Regions from separate parts of the Homo sapiens genome. Here region 1 is linked to region 2. Evidence: fine-mapped expression QTL. A gene starts in region 2. The other region holds a variant in brackets. All regions are shown on one strand. Distances are from middle to middle.

Evidence for each region. PIP is the estimated chance that this variant, and not a neighbour inherited with it, causes the effect. A credible set is the group of variants that fine-mapping cannot tell apart.
Region 1: its variant is the best candidate, but not a certain one, in a credible set for the expression of SCART1 in esophagus muscle (GTEx, PIP 0.68).

What each region holds. Positions count from the first base shown.
Region 1 is chr10:133,472,105-133,480,423 of GRCh38, forward strand. No RefSeq gene overlaps it. Among named protein-coding and RNA genes, the nearest start is that of SCART1, 22 kb to the left of the region's middle. The variant G/A (reference allele first, on the strand shown) is at 3,951.
Region 2 is chr10:133,450,135-133,458,453 of GRCh38, forward strand. SCART1 (scavenger receptor family member expressed on T cells 1) reads left to right here and starts at 3,811. Exons shown (of 12, transcript NM_001396050.1): 1 at 3,811-3,930; 2 at 6,103-6,420; 3 at 7,145-7,441; 4 at 8,226-8,319. The coding sequence starts at 3,864. RefSeq lists an enhancer at 3,536-3,585.

The sequences.
Region 1 (8,319 bases), 22 kb after region 2:
ATGGTGAGTGACTGCCTAAACCATCACCAGCCTGTGTGAGCTGACAAAGGAGGGCTCCTTACTTATGAGTTTATTTGTGTAAAGTCTTAAAAAATTAAAGATATTAGCTTAGTAATTATACACATAATGAATTAACTTTACTGAAAAGAATAGTATGTAGAAAAAATGAGAATTTTAGCAAAATTATTAGACGGTGATGAATGTGGTGTCTCCCTCCTGAGATCTGGTTGTTGAGTGCGGCGTCTCCCTCCTGAGATCTAGTCGTTGAGTGTGGCGTCTCCCTCCTGAGGTCTGGTCAGTTGAGTGTGGCATCTCCCTCCTGAGATCTGGTCAGTTGAAAGTGTGGCGTCTCCGTCCTGAGATCTGGTCATTGAGTGTGGCGTCTCCCTCCTGAGATCTGGTCAGTTGAGTGTGGCGTCTCCCTCCTGAGGTCTGGTCAGTTGAGTGTGGCGTCTCCCTCCTGAGGTCTGGTCAGTTGAGTGTGGCGTCTCCCTCCTGAGATCTGGTCAGTTGAGTGTGGCGTCTCCCTCCTGAGATCTGGTCAGTTGAGTGTGGCGTCTCCCTCCTGAGGTCTGGTCAGTTGAGTGTGGCGTCTCCCTCCTGAGATCTGGTCGTTGAGTGTGGCGTCTCCCTTCTGAGATCTGGTCAGTTGAAAGTGTGGCGTCTCCCTCCTGAGATCTGGTCAGTGGAAAGTGTGGCGTCTCCCTCCTGAGATCTGGTCAGTTGAAAGTGTGGCGTCTCCCTCCTGAGATCTGGTCAGTGGAAAGTGTGGCGTCTCCCTCCTGAGATCTGGTCGTTGAGTGTGGCGTCTCCCTCCTGAGATCTGGTCGTTGAGTGTGGCGTCTCCCTCCTGAGATCTGGTCATTGAGTATGGTGTCTCCCTCCTGAGATCTGGTCAGTGGAAAGTGTGGCGTCTCCCTCCTGGGATGTAAGTTGTTGAGTGTGGCGTCTCCGTCCTGAGATGTGTTCAGTTGAGTGTGGCATCTCCCTCCTGAGATTTGGTCATTGAGTGTGGTGTCTCCCCCTCTTTCTTGTTCCTCTTTTGCCATGTGAGGCACCTGCTCCCCCTTCACCTTCCACCATGACTGGAAACTTCCTGAGGCCTCCCCAGAAGCAGATACCACTCTCCTTCCTGTACAGCCTGCAGAACCATGAGCCAATTAAACCTTTTTTTCTTAAAAATTACAGAGTCTCAGGTATTTTTTTATAGCAGTGTGAGAACAGATGAATACAGAGACCCCTCCCAAGGGAACATCCTGTGTCTAATTGTTGGTGGGTGTCTCACCGACCCCAGAGTTGAAGAAGCTCCTTTGCTTAGCTTGTTTCCCATAGGCTGAGCACAGGGTCCCCCAGGGAGTGCCTGGTTGACGGTGGTCAGGTGGCTCAGACCTGCTGAGTCTTGCTGGGGATGGCCCTGCTGCCTGAGGATCCCAAAACGTTGGAAGATGAGGGACTCTCATTGGGCTTTGAGGATCCCCGTAGCCCTAGGACAATTCCAGGTATGTAGCAGGTGCTCCCACATCTTACCACTTAGCTTGGATTTTGAGGTTTAAATGCTACAAATATGGTTACTTATTGTGGGCCATGAAATAACCTTAAATCAGTGTTGCAGTGACCTTTGATACTGAATGTTTTTATAAATCAACATTATTTTTAAAGAAAAGTGGTGTGTTTGATTAGGAAAATCCGGCATAGCTGAAGGTTATAACACATTTGAATAAATTAGAGGAAGTGTTCAAATCTTGGGTTGCTGAAATGCTATTACATATACTGTCATGGAAAATAGATAATCATTGGCCAGAGATTAAAAACATGTGCCGATTGATTGAGTTGAAGGATGTTAGAAGGTTTGGAAAATTAAAGGGGCCAGTTGTCTTCCTGTGATGAAATTAAGAAGCACTTTAAATCAGCCATGGCCACGTCTCTGGTTCTTTTGCAATGACTGTTTTCTCCATGTCTTATTTTCTGCACTTGGTCTCTAAGATAAATTGCTAGGTTTCTCCTGAGCACAATTATCATCTCAGTTCTACCTGTGGGCACTTGCTGTGACCACCTACACTGCTTTACCAATCAGTTGTGGGCCTTTGGCCCAAACAAGGAAGTGAGTCAACCCCCATGGGCTCACAATGCCTCATCTACGTGGCCAGGCCTGCTGAGTGCAGAGTGGGGGTCTGGGCTTCAGCCTGCCAGAAGACTCTTAGTCTCCTCAGACCCTTTGGATGCTCCATCCTTGAAGTCAGGACAGTGTCTCCCTGGACACTGCAGGCCACCTCAGCGTCTGGATGGGCACATAAGAATTGTGATGAAAATATTTACCTTCCCGAGTTCACATCAACAGCCAGACATGCTGACAGTGTGCATCCCGGTGTGGTGTGATGAGAATGTCACGTGCCTCTGTGTCTTTCCGCCCCAAAACCCGTAACTTTCATCATGAGTAAAAAAATAATCAGGCGAATCCCAGTCAAGGGAATACCTGGAAGATACAAAATACCTGGCCAATATTCTCCAAAACTACCAAGTTCATCAAAAGCAAGGAAAGTCTGAGAAAATGCTGCAGTCAAGAGAAGCCTAAGGAAACTCCTAACTGTGATGTGGACAGAAGGACGTTAGGGGAACACGGAGGAACTGGGAATCAGCCATGGATTGCAGTTGACAGTATAGGATCGATACTGGCACATTAATGTAACACATGCTAATGGGAGATGTCAGTAACGGGAAACTGGGTGGGGGCAAATTTAAAACTATTCTAAAAGATTAAGTCTATTTAAATAAAATTCCATCCTCCTGCAGGGAGGGTTGCACATGGCCCTTGTGTGCCCAGGGCAGAGGTGCTGGGGAGAAGCCACCAGCTCTGGAATTGATCTCCCCAGGTCCATCACCCAGAAGCCCTGCAGGTGCCCTGGCCTGTCTCTGCTCGAGCCTGGGGGCGGTTCCCATGGGGACCCCTTTCTACCTCCGAGTGGGGTAATTGCTCCCTGAGAGCCGCTCCTGGGGACACGTGGGCCTCTGTAGCAACCTCAGCATCCACCCCGAGGGGACAGACTTCACTCAAAGGTCAGCATCAAACACAGGAGACACTGACTGGGAAGAGACGGGCGTCAGCCTTGAGGCACCATCATGTCCATGGACATGTGGGCTCCCATTTAGACAGGAGCTGGCCTAGCCACACTCCTCACTCAGTGAGTGGCTGCAACCCTCCATGCCTGCCTTCCACATGGATGACCCACCTAATTTTCCTTTCAATGTTTTTGAAAAGTCAGATCTGATTCTACCCTGCCCTGACCTACATTAATGTGGAAAAAATGTTGCTGAAATTGCTTTGCTGTTGTGTTGAGGGTTTCCGTTTGAAACTCTAAGTGCCTGGGAACCTCTGTGGGCCTGCACTGTGCCCTATCTGTGCCCTCGATCAGGTGAGCAAGAAGCCGGAGCCCCGTGGTTTGGCCTTTAAGGCAGATCAGGATCTGTAAGAGGGGCCTGGAAGCTTCCTGTGAATCTGGTGCAAGGCTCCACCTGCCCTTGGTTTCACAGGCAAATGGGGCTCCTGTGATGGAGGATGGATTTCGGGCCTCAGACTGGGCAGCCAGGAGGTCTTTGGGACTGCCTGAGCTGAGGGCTGCCTGGGCTGAGGACTGCCTGGGCTGAGGGACTGCCTGGGCTGGGGGGACTGCCTGGGCTGAGGGCTGCCTGGGCTGAGGACTGCCTGGGCTGGGGGGACTGCCTGGGCTGAGGGCTGCCTGGGCTGGGGGGACTGCCTGGGCTGAGGACTGCCTGGGCTGAGGGACTGCCTGGGCTGGGGGGACTGCCTGGGCTGAGGACTGCCTGGGCTGAGGACTGCCTGGGCTGAGGACTGCAGCTGAAGGCTGCCTGGGTTGAAGACTACCTGGGCTGGGTGCCTCCTGGGCTGGGAAGGAAGTGGGTTTGGCCTTGTTTCCTCTGATGTTGACTAAGCC[G/A]CCTCTCCTTGCCCTGGGCTGGGCCTGTCCTGCCCGAGGAGGCTAGGTGGTCAGAGATGGGTGGTGGGAGAGGTATGTGAGGTTGGTTGAGTGGAGGCACTGGATTAGGGGCTGCACCGAGGCTGGGTCTGTGCCTTTCTTTGATGTATCCAGTCTCGGACACAGCCTGACACCCCCTGATGGAACAAACCTCCCACCCAGACCAGGAACAGGAATGGCCAGTCCATGCCCGCTTCTGCATGGAGTCTGCCCTCCTGAGGGAGCGGCCTGGGGTGGCTGAGGTAGGGCCGCAGTCATGGTTTCTACTAAGGAGCTGTGGCCAGGTCAACCTACAGCTGAAATCTGACAGCTGAGGTCACCTGGCCAAAAGAGCTGGAGTCTGGCCTGGTGGTAGTTGGAGCCACTCACTGCCCTGATGTCCCCACATGCCTCCCTTTGGAGAGTGCCCCTCACAGCCTCTGCAGGTGAAACCTGTGCTGTCCTGACGCTAACTCTCCATAAAGCCCATGCCTGCTGGGTGGTTTTCCTTCTCCGCGACCCAGAATCTTGTGCCCAGGTCACTGATGTGGTCTCCACCTGCCTCGGGGGCCAAACACACTTGCACACCACGAGCTTCTGTGTGCTGGAATAATGGAGGAAATGTTTAAAATCAAAGCAATGAGAGGCTCTTGCTGCATTTTTGTTATTTACTGTGATGCCAGCCCCGCTGCAGGCCGGCAGGGAGCACTGTCCTCGGGGGTGAGTGACGCTGGGCTTGTTGACTCCCTCGCAGAGTGGAGGGTTAATGCTCTGATTCTCCCTGGGCGCAGGGACCCATGTTAACATCTTAATTATGTGCTTTCTGCAGCAAAGTTGCCAACAGCAAACTTTCCCAGAGAGTCTCAGCAGGACAGCGAACAAGGGGACAGGTCCCAGAGAGTCTCAGCAGGACAGCGAGCAAGCGGACAGGTCGCAGAGCGACTCAGCAGGACAGCGAGCAAGGGGACAGGTCCCAGAGAGTCTCAGCAGGACAGCGAGCAAGCGGACAGGTCCCAGAGAGTCTCAGCAGGACAGCGAGCAAGCGGACAGGTCCCAGAGAGTCTCAGCAGGACAGCGAGCAAGCGGACAGGTCCCAGAGAATCTCAGCAGGACAGCGAGCAAGCGGACAGGTCCCAGAGAGTCTCAGCAGGACAGCGAGCAAGCCGACAGGTCCCAGAGAGTCTCAGCAGGACAGCGAGCAAGCGGACAGGTCCCAGAGTCTCAGCAAGACAGCGAGCAAGGGGACAGGTCCCAGAGAGTCTCAGCAGGACAGCGAGCAAGCGGACAGGTCCCAGAGAGTCTCAGCAGGACAGCGAGCAAGGGGACAGGTCCCAGAGAGTCTCAGCAGGACAGCGAGCAAGCGGACAGGTTCCAGAGAGTCTCAGCAGGACAGCGAGCAAGCCGACAGGTCCCAGAGAGTCTCAGCAGGACAGCGAGCAAGCAGACAGGTCCCAGAGTCTCAGCAAGACAGCGAGCAAGGGGACAGGTCCCAGAGAGTCTCAGCAGGACAGCGAGCAAGCGGACAGGTCCCAGAGAGTGTCAGCAGGACAGCGAGCAAGCGGACAGGTCCCAGAGAGTCTCAGCAGGACAGCGAGCAAGGGGACAGGTCCCAGAGAGTCTCAGCAGGACAGCGAGCAAGCGGACAGGTCCCAGAGAGTGTCAGCAGGACAGCGAGCAAGCGGACAGGTCCCAGAGTCTCAGCAAGACAGCGAGCAAGGGGACAGGTCCCAGAGAGTCTCAGCAGGACAGCGAGCAAGCGGACAGGTCCCAGAGAGTCTCAGCAGGACAGCGAGCAAGGGGACAGGTCCCAGAGAGTCTCAGCAGGACAGCGAGCAAGGGGACAGGTCCCAGAGAGTCTCAGCAGGACAGCGAGCAAGCCGACAGGTCCCAGAGAGTCTCAGCAGGACAGCGAGCAAGCGGACAGGTCCCAGAGAGTCTCAGCAGGACAGCGAGCAAGCCGACAGGTCCCAGAGAGTCTCAGCAGGACAGCGAGCAAGCGGACAGGTCCCAGAGTCTCAGCAAGACAGCGAGCAAGGGGACAGGTCCCAGAGAGTCTCAGCAGGACAGCGAGCAAGCGGACAGGTCCCAGAGAGTGTCAGCAGGACAGCGAGCAAGCGGACAGGTCCCAGAGAGTCTCAGCAGGACAGCGAGCAAGGGGACAGGTCCCAGAGAGTCTCAGCAGGACAGCGAGCAAGCGGACAGGTCCCAGAGAGTGTCAGCAGGACAGCGAGCAAGCGGACAGGTCCCAGAGAGTCTCAGCAGGACAGCGAGCAAGCGGACAGGTCCCAGAGAGTCTCAGCAGGACAGCGAGCAAGCGGACAGGTCCCAGAGCGTCTCAGCAGGACAGCGAGCAAGGGGACAGGTCCCAGAGAGTGTCAGCAGGACAGCGAGCAAGGGGACAGGTCCCAGAGAGTCTCAGCAGGACAGCGAGCAAGGGGACAGGTCCCAGAGAGTCTCAGCAGGACAGCGAGCAAGGGGACAGGTCCCAGAGAGTCTCAGCAGGACAGCGAGCAAGCGGACAGGTCCCAGAGCGTCTCAGCAGGACAGCGAGCAAGGGGACAGGTCCCAGAGAGTGTCAGCAGGACAGCGAGCAAGGGGACAGGTCCCAGAGAGTCTCAGCAGGACAGCGAGCAAGGGGACAGGTCCCAGAGAGTCTCAGCAGGACAGCGAGCAAGGGGACAGGTCCCAGAGAGTCTCAGCAGGACAGCGAGCAAGCCGACAGGTCCCAGAGCGTCTCAGCAGGACAGCGAGCAAGGGGACAGGTCCCAGAGAGTCTCAGCAGGACAGCGAGCAAGCGGACAGGTCCCAGAGAGTCTCAGCAGGACAGCGAGCAAGCGGACAGGTCCCAGAGAGTCTCAGCAGGACAGCGAGCAAGCGGACAGGTCCCAGAGAGTCTCAGCAGGACAGCGAGCAAGCGGACAGGTCCCAGAGAGTCTCAGCAGGACAGCGAGCAAGCGGACAGGTCCCAGAGAGTCTCAGCAGGACAGCGAGCAAGCGGACAGGTCCCAGAGAGTCTCAGCAGGACAGCGAGCAAGGGGACAGGTCCCAGAGAGTCTCAGCAGGACAGCGAGCAAGGGGACAGGTCCCAGAGAGTCTCAGCAGGACAGCGAGCAAGGGGACAGGTCCCAGAGAGTCTCAGCAGGACAGCGAGCAAGCGGACAGGTCCCAGAGAGTCTCAGCAGGACAGCGAGCAAGCCGACAGGTCCCAGAGAGTCTCAGCAGGACAGCAAGCAAGCGGACAGGTCCCAGAGTCTCAGCAAGACAGCGAGCAAGGGGACAGGTCCCAGAGAGTCTCAGCAGGACAGCGAGCAAGCGGACAGGTCCCAGAGAGTCTCAGCAGGACAGCGAGCAAGCGGACAGGTCCCAGAGAGTCTCAGCAGGACAGCGAGCAAGCCGACAGGTCCCAGAGAGTCTCAGCAGGACAGCGAGCAAGCGGACAGGTCCCAGAGTCTCAGCAAGACAGCGAGCAAGGGGACAGGTCCCAGAGAGTGTCAGCAGGACAGCGAGCAAGCGGACAGGTCCCAGAGAGTCTCAGCAGGACAGCGAGCAAGGGGACAGGTCCCAGAGAGTCTCAGCAGGACAGCGAGCAAGCGGACAGGTCCCAGAGAGTGTCAGCAGGACAGCGAGCAAGCGGACAGGTCCCAGAGTCTCAGCAAGACAGCGAGCAAGGGGACAGGTCCCAGAGAGTCTCAGCAGGACAGCGAGCAAGCGGACAGGTCCCAGAGAGTCTCAGCAGGACAGCGAGCAAGGGGACAGGTCCCAGAGAGTCTCAGCAGGACAGCGAGCAAGGGGACAGGTCCCAGAGAGTCTCAGCAGGACAGCGAGCAAGCCGACAGGTCCCAGAGAGTCTCAGCAGGACAGCGAGCAAGCGGACAGGTCCCAGAGTCTCAGCAAGACAGCGAGCAAGGGGACAGGTCCCAGAGAGTGTCAGCAGGACAGCGAGCAAGCGGACAGGTCCCAGAGAGTCTCAGCAGGACAGCGAGCAAGGGGACAGGTCCCAGAGAGTCTCAGCAGGACAGCGAGCAAGCGGACAGGTCCCAGAGAGTGTCAGCAGGACAGCGAGCAAGCGGACAGGTCCCAGAGAGTGTCAGCAGGACAGCGAGCAAGGGGACAGGTCCCAGAGAGTCTCAGCAGGACAGCGAGCAAGCGGACAGGTCCCAGAGAGTGTCAGCAGGACAGCGAGCAAGCGGACAGGTCCCAGAGAGTCTCAGCAGGACAGCGAGCAAGCGGACAGGTCCCAGAGAGTCTCAGCAGGACAGCAAGCAAGCGGACAGGTCCCAGAGCGTCTCAGCAGGACAGCGAGCAAGGGGACAGGTCCCAGAGAGTGTCAGCAGGACAGCGAGCAAGGGGA
Region 2 (8,319 bases):
GGAAATCAGTGAATTGAAGAGATATCTGCACCCCTATGTTCACTGCAGCACTATTCACAATAGACAAGACATGGAATCAACCTAAGTGTTCATGAATAGATAACTATATAAAGGAAATGTAATATATATACACAATGGAATACTATTAAGCCATAAAAAAGAGTGAAATAGGCTGGGCATGGTGACTAACACCTGTAATCCCAGCACTTTGGGAGGCCAAGACTGGTGGATTGCTTGAGTCCTGGAGTTTGAGACCAGCCTGGGCAACATGGTGAAACCCCATCTCTACAAAAAAAAAAAAAAAAAAAAACAAATTATCTGGGTGTGGTGGCATGCACCTGTGGTCCCAGCTACAAGGGAGGCTGAGGTAGGGGGATTACTTGAGTCCAGGAGGCAGAGGTTGCAGTGAGCCAAGATCATGCCACTGCACTCCAACCTGGGCCACAGAATGAGACCCTGGGGGTGTCTCAAGAAAAAAAATAAGTAGATTAAAGAAACCTGTAATCTCAGCACTTTGGGAGGCCAAGGCAGGTGGATCACCTGAGGTCAGGATTTCAAGACCAGCCTGGCCAACATGGCGAAACCCTGTCTCTACTAAAAATACAAAAATTAGCTGGTCGTGGTGCCATGTGCCTGTAATCTCAGCTACTTGGGAGGCTGAGGCAGAAGAATCGCTTGAACCTGGGAGGCGGAAGTTGCAGTGAGCCGAGACTGCACCATTGCACTCCAGCCTGGGCAACACGAGTGAAACTCCATCTCAAAAAAAAAAAAAAAAACTTGCCATTTGTGGCAGTGTGTGCATGTAGGACATTCTATTAAGTGCAATAAATCAGGTACAAAAATATCAATACTGCAATACTGCTAGTTGTCACTCACATGTCGGGACTAAGAAATTGACCTCATATTAGTAGAGTAGAATTAGAGTTACTAGAGACTGGTAAGGGTTAGGGGAGAAGCAGATAGGGAGAGGTTGTTTAATAAATACAAAGTTACAGAGGAATAAGTTCCAGTGTTCTGTAGCTCTGTAGGGTGACTATAATTCAAAATAACTTGTTGTGTATTTTCAAATAGCTAGAAGAGAGGGTTTTGAATGTTCCCAACAGATAAATGATAAATGTTTGATGGGTTTGGTAGTTACCCTGATTCGATCATTATGCATTGCACACATGTATCAAAGTATCACTCTGTATCCCATAAATATGTACAATTCTTACATGTCAATTAAAAATAAGGCACTTCCTGCTTGCTTCCATTTCAGACGAGAAATTAGCTGTAATTCACATTTTACCATTTTTTATAGTCAGTGCAATCCTTTTTGTCTGGCTGTTTTTAGGATTTTTTTTTCCTTTGGTTTCCAAACGTTTAATTATGATGTGTCTTGGTGTGAATGTCTTTGAATTCATCTTATTTTGGATTTCTCAGCTTCTTGAATCTGTAGTTTTGTGCCTTTCACCATATTTGGAGAATATTTAGTAGTTGTTACTTTAAATACATTTTCAGCCCCATACGCTCTCTTATCTTTCCTGAATTTCCCAGATACAAAGATTAAGTCTTGTTATTATTGTCCCACAGATCCCCGAGGCTCTATAAATTTTTCTATTTTCTCTCTGTTGTTTGCACTGTGTAAATTCTATTGAAGTATCATCAGGTTCACTGGTTCCTCTGTCATTTCCATTCTACTAGTCCGTTCATTGAGTTTTTAACATTTCAGTTATTATATTTTCAGTTCTGTAATCATTTATTTTAAAAACAATTTAATTGAGGTTCATGTATCATAAATGCACTCTTTTAAAGTGTGTGGTGCAGAGGATTTTAGTATATTCAGGATTATGCAACCAGCACCACTAATTTCAGAACATTTTCATCACCTGAAAAAGAAATCCTGTAGCTGGCTGTGGTGGCTCACACCTGTAATCTCAGCACTTTGGGAGGCCAAGGTGGGAGGGTCCGATGAGGCCAGGCGTTTGAGACCAGCCTGGGTACATGGCAAGGCTTTCCATCTCTACAAAAAAATTTAAAAAATTAGCCAGACATGGTGGCATGCACCTATAGTCCCAGTTACTCAGGAGGTTAAGGTAGGAAGATCACTTGAGGCCAGGAAGTTGAGGCTGCAGTGAGCTATGATCATGCCACTGCACTCCAGCCTGGATGAGAAAGTGAGACTCTGTCTCCCAATAAATAAATGAATATATAAATACATAAATAAATAAAAATAAAAAAGAAAAACACTATACTATTTTCAGTCATTTTCTCTTTCCTCCTTCTCTAGCCCCTGGAAACCATGAATCTAATTTCCTTGTCTATTGATTTGCCTATTCTGGAAATCTCATATGAATGGAATCGTACCCAGTATGTGGTCTTTTACATCTGGCTTCTCTCACTGAGCATGTTTTCAAGGTTGACGCACATCCAGCCTGTGTGGGTGCCTTGTTCCCTTTCTATGGCTGAGTGACATTCCATAATGTGGACATACCGCATTTTGTTTCTCCATTTATCAGTGGATGCACACGTGAGCTGTTTTCATCTTTATTATGAATAATGCTGCATGGACATTCATGTAGAGATTTTTGTGTGGACATAAGTTTACATTCCTCTTAGATATGTACCCAAGAGTGGAGTTGCCCCTTCTGGGCTCAAGTGGTATCTTCCAGGAGTATCTCTGTTTAACATTTTGACAAACTGCCAAACTTTCTCAAAGCAGTTGCACCATTTTTGAATCTACCAGCAAAATCTGAGAGGTCCCATTTCTCTACATCCTTACCACTGTTTCATTTTGTTTTTAAGACAAAGTCTTGCTCTGTCACCCAGGCTGGAGTGCAGTGGTGCAATCTCAGCTCACTGCAACCTCCGCCTCTTGGGCTCACGCCATTCTCATGCCTCAGCCTCCCGAGTAGCTGGGACTACAGGTGCATGTCACCCTGCCCGGCTAATTTTTGTATTTTTAGTAGAGACAGGGTTTCACCATGTTGGCCAGGGTGGTCTCGAACTCCTGACCTCAGGTATCTGCCCACCTCAGCCTCCCAAAGTGCTAGGATTACAGGCGTGAGCCACTGCGCCTAGCCTGTTCCATTTTTATAACTTCTATTTCTTTGCTGAGATTTCAATTTTTCCACTTATTTCAAGAGCATTTGCAATTTGTTGTGGAAACATTTTTATGATGCCTGTTTTAAAATCCTTGTCAGATAATTCTGACACCTGACTCTTCCTGGTGCCGCCCTTAGTTGGTTGTCTCTTACTGAAATGGTCGTGTCCCTGGGTCTTCATATGATGAGTGATTCTTAACTGTATCTTCTCTCAAGGGTTTTCATTCCAACGACAGTTCAGTTCTCAGAGTTCTTGCAAAGCTCTTCCGTGTCATTCTTCTGGTGCTGCTGGGACTCCCACTCAAACCCTAATCCTACCCCTACCCCTAACTCTGCTAGTGCCATCTGCTGGCACAGAGGACGCCTCCTTGGCTGTCTGGGGCCACTGCCTTCTGTGGTGGTGGCATGGCTGAAGCCGACGGGCCCGGGTGGAGGGCAGAGACGCAGGGCTTCACTGATGCTGTGCTGTGGGCAGGTTGGACCATCTCTGCCTGATGGTTGGGTCTAGTCCCATCAGCAGCTTGATCAGTGTGGGAGGAAACCCACAGCCTGCACCCTCCCCATGTCTGGTGATGCTCAGGCCAGCAAGGCATTGGCTGCTCTGCTCACGGCTGAGAGGCAGAGCTGCTGATTCGCTCTGGAAAGGCTGTGGCTGTCCCCATTGGACCCTGGAGGTCCTTGGCAGCTCCCACTTCTGTATATGTGACTCTGGGCTGTGACCTCTGCCATTGCCCCAGCTAAGCAGCGAGAGCTTGCTGAAGCCCAGAGGGCTGTGGGACCATGAGGGCAGCTCTCTGGACCCTGGGACTCGGGCCCCTTCTTCTGAATCTCTGGGCAGTCCCCATTGGTAAGTTTCTGCTTCCTTCATCCATGGAACTTTCTGGAGGCATCAGCTCTGTTGATGCCCAGGCCCCGGGGCATGAGGGTCCCTGCAGTGACCTGCCGTCTGCCTGGGTCTCACTCAGCCCAGAGTGGGTGGGACATGCTGGGGCAGGAGGGAGGTGACTCCACATGGCTGGATCCCTGTGACCTCAGGGCCCCCAGACCCTAGCCCCACTGCTTGGAACCCAGGGTTCAGGGCTGGGTCAGGCCCTGGACAAAATGAGGGACACGGCCCAGTGTCTGGTCCCAATGACCCTGATCAACAGAGTCCTGAGGGGTCCTGCGGGGGCTGCTCCATCCACGTGCCCTGGAGCAGGGCTGAGGTCCTGGGAAGGAGGTGGGAGGGTTGGCTGCATCTGGCAGTGAGGTTGAGCATGGGGTCCCATGGAGATGCTGCACCCAGGTGGAGACACTGGGGTGTGAAGCCATGTGGAAGGGCTGCTGGGTCAGGGGCAGGGAGGTGTAGAGAGGGGGGTCTAGCTAGAAGGAACAGCAGGAGAGGCTGGAGGTGAGAGGGAGCCCCGGGGACCTGCGTACGTGGGCATGGAGCCATGATGTGAGTGTGGGGCTGGGCGGGAGGCAGGGGAGGGTGCCCTTGAGGCTGAGGAACACTTCACTGTCAAGGCTGGTCCAGGTGCCCAGCAGGGCGGTGACCTGGTGCTGGACGGAGCCACATCCCCAGCGGTGGGGTGGAAGTCTGTGGGCAGCTGCAGAAAGTGCAGAGGAGGTTAGGATTTGAAGGAAAGGCAGCAATGTGGCCACAGATGGATGGAAGCCTGGGGTTGAAGGGATTTGCTTTTGTGTCAACGATCGCATGCACAAGGGCCGGAATTCTCTATTACAACAAGAAATAGCTTTAGAAAATATAAAATGAAAAGCTATTCATAGCGGGCGTGGTGGCTTATGGCTGTAATCCCAGCACTTTGGGAGGCTGAGGCAGGCAGTTTACCTGAGGTCATGAGTTCGAGATCAGCCTGGCCAACATGGTGAAACCCCATCTCTACTAAAAATACAAAAATTAGCCAGTCGTGGTAGTGGGCGCCTATAATTCCCGCTACATGGGAGGCTGAGGCACGAGAATCAGTTCAACCCTGGAGGTGGACATTGCAGTGAGCTGAGATCGTGCCATTGCACTCCAGCCTGAGTGACAGAGCGAGACTTTTGTCTAAAAAAGAAAAAATTGCAGACACCAGCACGCATCCATGTCCTGAGAAGAACCAGGTGGGGAGGGTGATGAGGAGGCTGGGGGGTGTGGAGGGATGGATGAAGACTGAGAGAGAGGAGATTCAAGGCTCCCCAGGAGGTGGGAGGGAAAGGTCTTCATCTTGGACCAGGCAGGGTCCCCCCTCTGCTCCTGACTGCCATCGGGGAGGCTCTTTTCTGGGTGTGGAGAGTCCTCCAGGGGCCCTGGAGGCTGCTCTGGGACCACACAGCACCACCCACATGGACTTCCTCCTACTGGTTGCTTCATTTTCCTCGGGGTGGCTGTGTTGATGTGGGGTTGCAGAGGCCTGGAGAGGGTGGTTAGGGGTGCCTCCGTGGCGGGTGGGAGAGAAGGTGCTGGAGTAGCTGAGATGCTCAGAGACCGGAGGGTGAGATCCTGCCTGGAAGCCGGTATGGGTGGGGTAGTGGGGCTGGGTTTGGCATAGTGGGAGGGCAGGCAGGGGTGGTTTTCCTGGATACTCAGGGTTGCAGAGGACAGGACCGAAGGGTGAGCGGGGCACTCCAAGGGGTGTGGACAGTCACGTGGGTGGGGCAGGTGTGACAGTGGTGGGCTGGAGACCACAGGGCCTCCAGTGGAAGTAGGGGAATGATGCTTGGGAGGCAGAGAGTGGGTGGGAGGACCCACCCAGCTGCAGACCCAGGAGGACAGGGGACTTCCTTGCCTGGGGGATGGGGTCCTCCAGGATGTTGGGGCTCCAGAGGGCCAGGGAGGGGAGTAGCCCCCGGGGAGACACATGGGGTGAGGGTTTCTCTGTGAGCCGCGCCCATCACCTCTCTGGGACTGCTTGGTGGGGTGAGAGGAGCCCGACTCGCTGCTGAGGCCTCACAGGCCGTTCCCTGCTGCCGCGGCTGCCATCTCCTCCTGCGCCTCTGGTTGGTTCTGGCCCCTCTAACTGGACCTGTCTGTCTGTAGGTGGACCAGGTGCTCTGAGGCTGGCGTACAGACACAGCACGTGCGACGGAGTGGTGTTGGTCCGACACCACGGGGCATGGGGATACGTGTGCAACCAGGAGTGGACGCTGGCAGAGGCCTCTGTCGTGTGCAGGCAGCTGGGCTGCGGCCCTGCCGTGGGCGCCCCCAAGTATGTCCCGCTGCCTGGAGAGATGGCCCAGCCCTGGCTTCACAACGTGTCCTGCCGGGGCAACGAGTCCTCCCTCTGGGAGTGCAGCCTTGGCTCATGGTGCCAGAGCCCGTGCCCCCACGCATGGGTGGTGGTCGCGCTGTGCTCCAGTAAGTAGGGAGGAGTGAAGGGGACGGGGCTGAGGAGGAGGAGGAGTGGGAGGACGAGGAGGAGGACTGGGAGGACGCAGAGGAGGACTGGGAGGATGGCGGGTCTCGGAGACGGGCGGGGAGGCTGTGGGTCTGGAGCTCTCTCTGGGAGGGGCTCCTCTCTGGGCACCGGGGCCATCCTGACTGTAAGATTCAGCTGTGGAAAAACCAACGCCAGGGAGAGTCAGAGATTGGAGGAAGGAAGCAGAGTGCGGCCCAGGCGTGGGGGAGGCAGCAGCCGAGCGGGGGCGGGGTCTGTGGACGCCTGAGGCCCACACAGGTAGCTGATGATGGTTTCTTAGACAAATGACAGACAGGTACACGCTTTCCCTTTGAGGTCTGGCTCGAGGGTCCTCAGCTGTCCCTCACATTTTATGTGGCTGTGAGGACCCCCTCATAGCGTCCTGCCTCTGAGGCTGAACCACCTGGCCAGGACCTCCTACCATTTTGGGGCCCAGTGTGAACGGATCCTGCGGGGAACCTTGTTTCAGGAGACCAGCAGCAGAGCATGAAGCTGGGCACAGGGGTCTCTCTGAGCCCAGGGCCCTGTGTGACTGCCCGGTCACCTGCCCCTGAAGCTGGCCCTGGCTCAGCCCATCACTGTCCTCCCTGAAAAAGGAGCTGCCGAGTGACCATGCGGCCAGCTGGGTCCATACCTTAAGGAGGACCGGCCTGTGCTCCACAGACGGCACTTTCCGGGAGCTCCGGCTGGTGAAGGGCCGCAGTCCCTGCGCGGGACTCCCCGAGATCAGAAACGTGAATGGGGTGGACCGCCTCTGTGTCCTGCATGTGGAGGAGGCCATGGTGTTCTGCCGGGAGCTGGGGTGCGGCCCTGTGCTCCAGGCCCCCCGCCGGGACGTGGGCGTCGTCAGGAAGTACCTGGCCTGCAGGGGTACCGAGCCCACCATCCGCAGCTGCAGACTGGACAACAACTTCCGCAGCGGCTGCGACCTGCGGCTGGACGCAGAGGTGGTCTGCTCAGGTGAGGCTGCCACCTGATGTTCCCAGTGACCCTTGGGATGATGCTGGGCCCGGACCTGGGGAGGGCAGGGAGAAGGGGGGTGGGCGTTCCCACGGATGGGCCCCCCTGTCCTGCATGAGACATTGGGCGCAGAGGTGGGAAAGGGCCTCAGCTCTCACGCTGGTTCTCAGCAGAGTGGAGCTGAGTTTCTGGTGGCCCCACAGAGGTGTCCTGGCTCAGAACCCGCAGGCCATCTAGGGGTCCTGGCTGCCGCTGCAAGTCTGAGCTGCCTCAGCTGTGATCTCTGCATGTCTAACATGGATCGGGGTTGGGTAGAGGTCACTTCTTCCCAGCCCTGCCTCAACTGTGTGTGAGCTGCACTGGCCTCACAGCTCCTGGCCTTGTTGTGCATATGAGGAGCAGCTGAAATGAGGTGGATAGTCTGCCTGCTGCGGTACCCCAGAGAGGGTGGTGCTCAGTGGACCAAGGGGTGCCCTGACCTCGCCTCTGGGATTGCAGAGGGTGTTGCTGTCATGGCCTCGGACAGGCAGAGGCTGTGAAATACGTGAGCACCTGCAGCAGGTGACCCTGACCCTGACCTTGGTGATGCGGCCAAGGACGTCTGCTCTGCTCTGGGTGCCGGGTGGAAGGGCCTGTGGCTGCAAGTTCCTGCCTGTGCTTGGTAGACCCTCTGCCTAGATGCAGGTGATGGCTCCTGGCTGAAGCCTTCCGCAGTCTGAGGCTCAGGGCCAGGCTGTTGACCTGAGAACACCTGTCTCCTGCCTGAGAGGACGTCTGCCCCCAGGACACACCGAGGCCCGACTGGTGGGCGGCGAGCACCCCTGCGCCGGGCGCCTGGAGGTGACCTGGGGCACCGTCTGTGATGCGGCCCTGGACCT